Linked DNA regions of Homo sapiens: region 2 is linked to region 1. A link means that fine-mapping ties the variant in region 1 to the expression of a gene that starts in the linked region. Tissue or cell type: whole blood. Region 1 holds a variant in brackets; the other region holds the start of a gene. All regions are shown on one strand. Distances are from middle to middle.

Region 1 (5,261 bases):
TTCTTTCCCCTTACTTGCTAGTTTTCAAAAATAAAAGGTTAGTTCCTTAACATCTTCCACTGGTGACCTGTAGGGGTGTGCGTGTGTGTGTGTGTGTGTGTGTGTGTGTGTGTGTGTGTGTGTGTGTCTGTCTCTGTGTGTGTGTGAGAGAGAGAATGTTTCTTTATGAACTCATATTTAAACATCCTGAAACCCAATCCATTGCATTTAACCATTTTGCTCAAATTATTTCATTTTTAGCTAGTGAGTCTCTTCAAATTGACTCCCAATTATTTCTGACTTACCCTCAGTAGTCTTTTATATGTTTCTTACATTCCAGTTTAATATGATGTTTCAGAATCAAATTGTACATTTTCTTTTCTAGACCTGGAATTGGTTATATTTTCTTTCAGGTGCCCCATCTTCTTTTGAAGTGGGAATTAGTCTTTAGGGACCACAGTCTAGGGGCTTAGAATGCTCATTGCTGCTGGGTTGATACTGTAACTTTTTTGCAGCGTTTATTTTTATCTTATGAAGAGTTTGATTATATTGTTACTCTTCACCTCTGTTGTGTGTGTGTGTGTGTGTGTGTGTGTGTGTGTGTGTGTGCATGCGCGCGCGCGCGCATGTTTTTTAGAGACAAGGTCTTGCTCTGTCACTCAGGCTGGAGTGCAGTAGCATAAGCTCACTGCAGCCTTGAACTCCTGAGCTCAAGGGATCCTTCCACATCAGCCTCCCAAGTGGCTAGGACTACAGGTGTGCACAACCACCTAATTTTTTTTTTTTTTCAGTAGAGACAGTCTTGCTATGTTGCCCAGGCTGGCGTTGAACTCTGGGGCTCAAGCTGTCTTCCTGTCCTGGCCTCCCAAATTGCTAGGATTATAAGAGTGAGCCACTGCACATGGCTTCTGTATTTTTTTTTTTTTGAGCTATAAGTCATATCACATAAAATCCACCCTTTTAAAGTATACAATTCAGTGGTTTTTAGTATAGTCATAAAGCTGTAGAACCATTACCATTACCTAATTCCAAACATTTCATCACCCTGCAAAGGTACCTTGTACCCATTAGCAGTCACTCCCTATTCTTCCCTCAACCTGGCTCCTGGCAACCACTAATCTACTTTCTGTCTCTGTGGATTTACCTTTTCTGGACATCTCATACAAATGGAATCACACAATATATGGCCTTTTGTGCCCCAGGTTCTCTCATTTAGCATAATGTTTTCATCTATGTGTGTCATGTATCAGTATTTTATTCCATTTTATTGCTGGATAACTCCATTATATATACTGTGTGTGTGTGTGTGTGTGTGTGTGTGTATTTTTTGTTTGTTTATCCATTCACATTTTGTTTGTCCATTCATTGATTGATGCATATTTGGGTTGTTTGCACTTTTGGCCATCATGAATAATGCTGTTACGAAAATTTGTGTAGAAGTTTTTATGTGGACATACCTTGTCAGTTCTCTTAGGTATATACCCAGGAGTGGAACTGATGGGACATATGATGACTCTAAACTTTTTTGGGAACTGCCACACTTTTCCTCAGAGGTTGTACCACTTTACATTCCTGCCGGCAGTGTATGGGGGTTTCACCTTCACATTCCATCTACATCTGACATTAGTATCTTCCTCACTGGAGTTATATTTTGTTATTTAATAGTTTTGCAAAATGCATTAAATTCACTTCCATTTAAATTGTTTAAGATACAGCAGTTTGAATGTGTCAATGATGCTATCTTTAGAAATTTTATTCTAAAACACAAATATCTTTTGTGTAATATTAGGACAGTTTTTTAAAAGTAATTCAGTATGTTTCTTTTTTGAAAAGGTTCTTTATAACAGTATCCCGTTCTTTTAATAAGTTCATACCCTCAAATTTTCTCTGCCTTTGCCCTTCTCCTTTTTAATTCCAATAAGTGCCTTTTTGCACATCTTTACCTTCCTATCTAAAGTAGCATTTCTGTTACACCATCACCAAACTCTGCTTAATTTTCTTTGCAGCAGTTGCCTACTGCTTAACATTAGTTATCTGTTTCTTTGTTTCTAATGAGAAAGACCAACAATAAAATCAAGTTCCATGAATTTCTGTTCACAGTGGTGTCCCCAAAGTCTACAACAGTGCATGGAGTGTAGAAAATATTGAATAAATATTTATTGAAAAGAATGAATAAATGAGATAATTTTACATTAGTTTCAGTTCTTGAGCTAGGCCAAATCACAAAAGTTTGGCTTGGTTTGAAGAGTGGTTAAGAATGATGACTCCAACTTGGTCTGTTACTGAACCATAAGGTTCTTCCTCATCCTTCCAGCCTCTAAAAAATGGTGCACCCAAAACCCCTGTCCTTAGTCATCTTAGCCTCTCCATTTATACTTGCTCCTGCATTTGGCTTTAATGCCATTCACACACTGATGTCTCCCACATTTATGTTTATATCTCTAGGCTCCATCTTCTTGATCTCTAGTCTGGTTTAACTAGCACTTTACTTGGCATCTTTGTTTGGATATGTGATAGGTTTTCAAACATAATGTGTCTAAAATGGAAACTTTAATTTCTTGTTCCTTGTCCGTTGAGCTGTCTCTGCATGGCACGAGAAGAATAGATTTTTCTTACAATGCTCTTCATCAATAAATAGAAAATCCTTGCTTCCGGTTGCTGACACAAAAAGCTTGACTTCTCTTTTTCTATCCTATTTAATTAATCCACTCAAATCCTATGGGCAGTATTTTCAAAGTATATCCAGAATCAGTAACATCCCACCACTTCTATCTCTACTACCTTTTCATTGCTATATTGTCTCTTGCTGGGGTTAATGACGCTTTCTAATTGGTCTTCTTTTGCCCCTTACCCCCAGTAGCCTTGACTGTTCTCTACCCAACAGCCAAAATGATTCTTTTTTTTGTTTTTTTGGTTTTTTTTTGAGACTGAGTCTCACACTGTCACCTGGGCTGGATGTGCAATGGCGTGATCTCGGCTCACTGCAACCTCTGCCTCCCAGGTTCACGTTATTCTCCTGTCTTAGCCTCCCGAGTAGCTGGGACTACAGGCACACACCCCCATGCCCTGCTAATTTTTTGTATTTTTAGTAGAGATGGGGTTTCACTATGTTGGCCAGGCTGGTCTCGAACTCCTGACCTCGTGATCTGCCTGCCTTGGCCTCCCA[G/A]AATGCTGGGATTACAGGCGTGAGCCACCACACCCGGCCAAAATGATTCTTTAGAGTAAGTCATCTCCTACCATTCCTCTGCTCAAAATGCCTCAACACAATCTGGGCCTTGCTACTGCTTTTATGTTCTCTTGTTCCCTTGCTTACATTGCCCTTAAAAGAGTTTTATGCTGCACATTGAAGCCCAGACTCCCTGAAATATCCTGTGTTACAGAAGCTTAGCAAACTAGAAATGTTGGTTTTGCATGAGACTGTTCAAAGAAAAGAGCAACTTACTTACTCTTTGTATAAGCCTATTTTTGGGTTTCTAGTTGGATATTCTTTCCCCCTTTTTTGTTCTTATAAAACCAGGTAAAGGTATTAGTACAGATTGTAAGTTTTTAGAAGAGCATAGAATATTTGGGTAATAAGGCAAATTTATTTTTCCTATTTTGCTCGTAAGTCAGTTTGGTTTCCTCAGATGGGGGATCCATTTTGAATTTAGAGATAACCACAAAAACATCCTAAAATACTACAAGAATAATGATTTTGCATTTGCAGGTTGATGTTATTTATTTTTTTGAGACAGAGTCTTGCTCTGTTGCCCAGACTAGAGTGCAGTGGTGTAATCACAGCATACTACAGCCCCAACCTTCCAGGCTCAGTTGATCCTCCCACCTCATCCTCCTGAGTAACTGGGACTACAGGCATGTGCTGCCATGACCAGCTTTTTTTTTTTTTTTTTTTTTTTTTTTTGAGACAGAGTTTCACTCTGTTGCCCAGGCTGGTCTCAAACTTCTGAGCTCAGGCTATCTGCCTCAGCCTTCGAAAGTGCTGGGATTATAGGCATTAAGCCACCTTGCCTGGCCTGTAGGTTGATTTTAATTGTTGCTTTATTCATCCAAGTTTTATGATATTTTTTGTTTTACTACGAACATTAGGAATGTTAGCCTTTGATACTGTTTTTGCAGAAACAGGTTAAGACTAACAGGAGTTTTACAAAGGAACTGTCAAATTGGGATTTGACTAGTGGGAATTGGCTGGGTGATAATCAACTTTTTCTTGGCTGACTCTGATCAGCTTCTTAGGCCTGTGTATATACAATACCTTTGTGAGGATATGGCCGATTAGGGGAAAAACTATTGCCAATTTTGCCTCCCCTCCTCTTTTTTTTTTCTTCTTCCCCCTCTTCCCCCCCACCCCCAGACTTCACCATAAGGGAAAGAAGAGAGCCTTGTTGGACACTGAAGAAGGGACGGGGATTTCTCCTCCTAATCTGGGCCTCTTGTCATGGTAAGTACAAGGAAATAAGAGTAAAAAAAAAAACAAAAAACCCTGTGTCCTGACAATTAAGTGAACACTAATAAATTCATACTTACCCATTTTTGTTTTTGTAAGAAATTATTTCTTTTTCTTTCCCAGATCTCTTGTGTCTTTTCTTTTCTTGTTTACTTAGTAGTAATAGAGTACTCCAATATACAGAGCAGTTTCATTTCTGTTAACTTTAATCCTGTGAGCTAGATGTTGTCTCTTATTTTTCAGTCAGCAAGTAAATGGAATCAAGACTAAAACATACAGTTCTCGGACTCCAGGTTTTTAATTCCTTTTCTAGGAAGTAGCGTGTAGTGAAAACTGTGTGTGTGTGTTTGTGTGTAGACAAATTGTAAGATGGTAATCTGCATATTTACTTAAAAATTTTTTTAAATTGACAAATTACATATATATTGTGTACAGCATAATGTTTTGAAATACATATATACCTTGTGGAATGGCTAAATCAAGCTGATTAACATATGTATTACTTCACATAGTATATATGCTTTATGAATTTATAGAAGCAATTCCCTACCTTCCCTGTTTTGTCTCTTTAAGGCAGTATTTTGATCCCATAGTAGGTGGAGCAGCCCTGCACACCCCCTCCTGTATCTTTAACCAGAAAGAGAATTTAATGGACAATTTAATGACTTACGGGCCATTTCGGGCCCAGCTCAAGCAGAGAAGATGGAGCAACAAGCCAGCCACATTTTCATCAATCCTGAGGAAATGTAAACAGTGCTTCAAGGCTTAAAAAAGAAATGGTCCTCTGTAATATTGTCCTTCTTCTACCTTGTGATGTTTCCTAGATCCAAACTGTTTT
Region 2 (5,000 bases), 86 kb before region 1:
TTTCTGGAAGCCAGAGTGAAAAGAGAGACACAATCAGATGCGTAACAGTTATCAAAAAGCAGGAAGCACACCGGTTTTTCTGGTAGTAAAGCAAGGGCTTTCCAAGCTTTTAACTCTAAAGTAATTTATTTCGTTCTTTCTTTTTTCTCTCTCTGACACCCAGATTGGAGTGCAGTGGCACAATCAGGGCTCACTGCAACCTCTGCCTCCCAGGCTCAAGCCATTCTCCCACCTCAGCCTCTCAAATAGCTGGGACTACAGGCGTGCACCACCACGCCTGGCCAGTTTTTTGGTATTTTTTGTAGAGATGGGATTTCGCCATGTTGCCTAGGCTGGTCTCGAACTCCTGAGCTCAAGCAATCCACCTGCCTCGGCCTCCTAAAGTGCTGGGATTTCAGGCATGAGCCACTGCGCCCGGCCTAAAGTAATTTCTTACTTGAGATTTTATTTCAGGCTACTGTGTCCATGCACTGGGCAGTACAGCCTGGTGGGTAAGACAGCACAGTATTTTTTTTTTTTTTTTGTCTGCTGGGTTTGAATTTTGTTTTAATACACGCAATTTATTCTGTGCTTCACTTTCTTCATCTGTAATATGGAGATAATGGCATCTACCTATTAAAGTTGTGAAGATTCAATTAGATGAGTTGTATGAATAAATGTTAGCTGTTAGTTTAGTTTCGTTTTTTTGAGACGGAGTCTTGCTCTGTCGCCCAGGCTGGAGTGCGGTGGCGCAGTCTCAGCTCACTGCAACCTCCGCCTCCCGGGTTCAAGTTATTCTCCTGCCTCAGCCTCCCAAGTAGCTGGGATTACAGGCGCCCGCCACCATGCCCAGCTAACTTTTGTATTTTTAGTAGATCCGGGGTTTCACCAAGTTGGCCAGGCTGGTATCGAACACCTGAGTTCAGGTGATCCACTCACCTTGGCCTCCCAAAGTGCTGGGATTACAGGCGTGAGCCCCCGCGCCCAGCCAGCTGTTAGTTAATCAAGAAATTCGACTGCCTACTACTTAACCTGCACAGTTCTAGGTGCTGGGGAAACAGTGACGAACAAGACAAGATCCTTATCTTCAAGTAGCTTTTACATTTTAGTGGAGTAAAATGACAGTAAACATTGAAAATAAATTTCAGAAAGTGCTGTGGAAAAACTTTACAACAGACGCAGGAATAGATTTCATTTGACTAGTTCTCCCAGTTTCCAGAAAAGTCAAGGGTAGAATGTTAAAAGGCAACTCAGAGGAGGTGAATCTGTTAGGGCCTACGGTAATGCAATCCTGGTTTGTGGAATTCTGCAGGCTAGTGTGGGTAGGTTACAATTTTTTGGGGGAGTTGTTTTTTACTTTGTTTGAAAACTCACTTCTTCCCGCTGAGCTTTTGATTAGGAGCTGAAGTTGAATCAGTTTGAAATTGTATTCTGGACCGGATGCGGTGGTTCATGCCTGTAATCCCAGCGCTTTGGGAGGCCGAGGTGGGTGGATTGCTTCAGCCCAGGAGTTTGAGATCAGCCTGGACAAAATGGCAGAAACCTCATCTCTACAAAAAATACAAAATTTAGCCGGGCATGATGTTGTGAGTCTGTAGTCTCAGCTACTCAGGAGGCTGAGGTGTGAGGATCGCTTGAGCCCGGGAGGCAGAGGTTGCAGTGAGCCGAGATGCCACTGCACTCCAGCCTGGGCGACAGAGCCAGACTCTGTCTCAAAAAAAAAAAAAAAAAAAAAAAAAAGAAAAGAAAAGAAAAGAAATTGTATTCTGAATACAACTTCTAAAACACTATATTTACTTGCATTATATTAAACTGGTTTTATCCTGACCACAATTGCAGGTGGAAGATACCACTATTGTTCTATTTTTCTGGTAAGTAGAGTGAGCCATGTCTTGCCCAGGGTTACAGAGCTTGGAAAAGACGCCTCCTAAAAATCTGTAGGACCACCTTTGGTTTTCTTCCAGATTTTTTTTTGTCATCTCTTTTCCTCCACCCATTTCCCATCTGTCTAGCCATTCTTGCTCCGCTGGGCTTTTTCGCGAGCCTCTCCCCAGCTGCAGCCCCGCCCATCTCCTGGGGCGTGACCACCTGTCCAGGCCCCGCCCCCGTCCAACCGGCGGAGACCCGCCCCCTTTCCCGGACACCGGGCTCAGCGCCCGAGCGTGCGCGCGCGTCCTCGCTCGTCGCCCGGCTCGGCGTCGGGAGCGCGCTCTGTGTGGCCGCTGCCGCCATGTTGTTGTGGTTGTGAGAAGGCGGCGGCGGCGGCGGAGTAGCAGCCGGACGAGACGTCCCAGCGGCTCAGGCGCTGCCCAGCGCCGGCCCTGGCAGGGAGCCTGGTGGGGTGGCGGAGGGGGAGACTGTGCCGTGGAGGGCCTCGCCATGTCCTGCTGCCCGGTAAGAACCCCATCCCCGTCCTCCGTCTCCTCGGCGGGTGAGGAAGAGCTGGAGGAGGGGCCGGCCTCGGCCCCGGCCCTGGCCAGGCGGCTGTCACCCTCTGAGGAGGCAGCGCCCTGGGAGGGCTGGGGACTGCGTGCGGGGCCCGGGGAGGGGCGTCCCCGGCGGCTGTCGCCGCCAGGGGGAGGCGCTGGGTGTGGGAGTGGGAATGGGAGCTCGGCGGCCGAGCTCGGCCCGGACCCTAGATGCGGGGGAGGCGGGGTCCCGGGCTCGGGCTGCCTTCCCAGACCTGGCGGGGATGGGCCCGTGCGGCTCTGGGTGTGGGACGTACCCTCGGAGCGCCCGGAGTTATTCCCACGAACTCCCGGGAGGTGGGTGTGCGCCCTTCGCCCCCTGCCGGGTCTGTGGCGGTCCATCGTTGCCGGATACTGGAGGTCAGGGGCCATGGGAGCCCCGGGGCGAACGGTGCGGGCCTGGGCCTTGTGGAAAGGAGGAGTGACCGCCCGATCGTGCAGCAGGGCATCCCCCTGACCTGGTAGTACTTAGGTGGGTAGGATGATTGGGGGCGGTTGGCGTAACTGAGGGAACCCTGGTCAGACTGCTCCGCAAATGATTACAGTGTTATTTCTCCGGTAGTAATTTTGCTTGATGTATGGCATTTCCGGACCCATAAGATGATACTGTAGGTTGTATTTTGGACTGGAAAACTTATGTCAAAATTATGGGGTAGATTTTTTGGCCACATTAATAGACTCCCCTGGAATTTGATAATCTCACTTGTGAGTTTTGGACATGGACTGCTATTACATATTGATGTTCAAATGTCCTTTCCAGACCCAGGCCTAAATTCTTACTGTTGTAGTATCTTGATTCTGACATCTATTTTTCCACAACCCAAACAAACAAAACAAAACAAAACAAAACCCCAAAACCATATACTTTTCTAGTTAAGGTTCAACTTTCTCATATGTGAATGGTAATGCCATAAGAGGCCTGGGTTGAATTACAGGAGATTATTATTATTTTTTTCAATGTGAAATGTTTGTGATTTGTCCATGGAGAGGTGGTGGGGACCTTCCCCTTTCAGATTCAGGGCTGTTCAGTAGGACAGGAGACATTGATGGCATGCAGAAAGTCTTCCCTTTATAGGGCCTATGACTTGGGTAGGCTAGAAGAGCTTACAGAATGACACTTTTTTTTTTTTTTTTTTTTTTTTTTTTTAAGACAGAATCTCTCTCTCCCGCCCAGGCCGGAGTGCAGTAGTGCGATCTCTGCTCACTGCAACCTCCGCCTGCCAGGTTCTAGCAATCCTCCCACCTCAGCCTCCCAAGTAGCTGGGATTACAAGTGTGCGCCACCACGGCTGGCTAATTTTTGTATTTTTAGTAGAGACGGGGATTTCACCATGTTGGCCAGGCTGGCCTGGAACTCTTGACCTCAAGTGATCCGCTTGCGTTGGCCTTCGAAAGTGTTGGGATTATAGGCGTGAGCCACTGCCGCCAGCCAGAATGACACTGTTTTGAGTAAACCCAGTATAGTATGTGATATTAAATTAAATTTGGAGGATTCTAGAATTTTAGATTGGCTGCCTATGAATACCTCTTTTGGCTCCAATTACTCCCTCATTTTCAGGTGACTCAGAGAACTTCAAGTGACCAGCACAGTGGTACAGCCCCGCTTGTCGTTAATGACCAGCCATAAAAAACCCTGAGTTTCTCAGCTCATAGGCCAGGTTCTTCAGTGGTTGTCTAGTTTAAGGCTGGTCATTAGAAATATTATGGACTACCTAAATTCCTCGAACTCATGCAGGACCTGGTGAATTAAAATCTCTGAGGATAGAGCCTGGGGATCTGTCCTTACAAAGCTCCGTGAATGATTCTGGTCAGCAAGGCATGTGAACTTTTGCTTTAGGTTGGGTATTCCAAAGAAGTCCCATTAATTATGACTTCTCAGGGTGCTTTTGTTTATAGATCTTTAAGAATTTAAGAGGTGGAGAAGGGGAAGCATGAGAAACTTAAAGAGATGCAAATTGAGCATCTCTTAAAATATAATGGATTTATGTAGGGGAAACAGATTTGTTGCCAAAAGTTAATTTGCAAACAAGTTATTAGGAACACACTTGATAAAATTAGATGCTGATTAATTGGAGATATACTGTATCCAGAGATATATTGAAGGATCCAGAGGAAATAAACAGAGAAGGAGAGGGAGTAAGTCGGCTTCTGGCTCATAAAGGGGTCCACTGAAGATGCTTCCCACCATTATGGTTGCTCCTAAACCATCTGACTCAGATTTCTAGTGGAGGGTAGGATGGGTGTGTTAGCAATCATTTGAGACCCGGGTTGTGAACCAGGAAGGGTTACTATGTATTGTGAAAAGTTCTTGAGATTTGCCGCAGGCCATGAGGAGTGGTAAAGTCAGTTTAAAAATCTGCTGTAGTTCTAGTTAACACGTTCACACCTTCTTCAGTAAAGTGGAATGCTGTTACCAAAGGAAGTATTCGTGTTTTAGAGGGGGGTGTGGTGAAGGTTCTTACAAGTTTGGAAGAGGTGGAAGAAAATGTTGTTACAATTGTGTAGAGTAGTGAAGGGCTTTGGTAAATATCCTGTCAAATCATAGAGTAGTATT

The links. PIP is the estimated chance that this variant, and not a neighbour inherited with it, causes the effect.
Region 2: it holds the start of MTMR3, and the variant in region 1 is fine-mapped to the expression of MTMR3 in whole blood (TOPMed, PIP above 0.99).

What each region holds. Positions count from the first base shown.
Region 1 is chr22:29,966,646-29,971,906 of GRCh38, forward strand. MTMR3 (myotubularin related protein 3) reads left to right here. Exons shown (of 20, transcript NM_021090.4): 3 at 4,331-4,417. The coding sequence starts at 4,415. Among named protein-coding and RNA genes, the nearest start is that of MIR6818, 38 kb to the right of the region's middle. The variant G/A (reference allele first, on the strand shown) is at 3,146.
Region 2 is chr22:29,880,987-29,885,986 of GRCh38, forward strand. It overlaps MTMR3 (myotubularin related protein 3), which reads left to right and starts at 2,188. Exons shown (of 20, transcript NM_021090.4): 1 at 2,188-2,373. RefSeq lists an enhancer at 1,994-2,288 and silencers at 2,001-2,170, 2,231-2,730.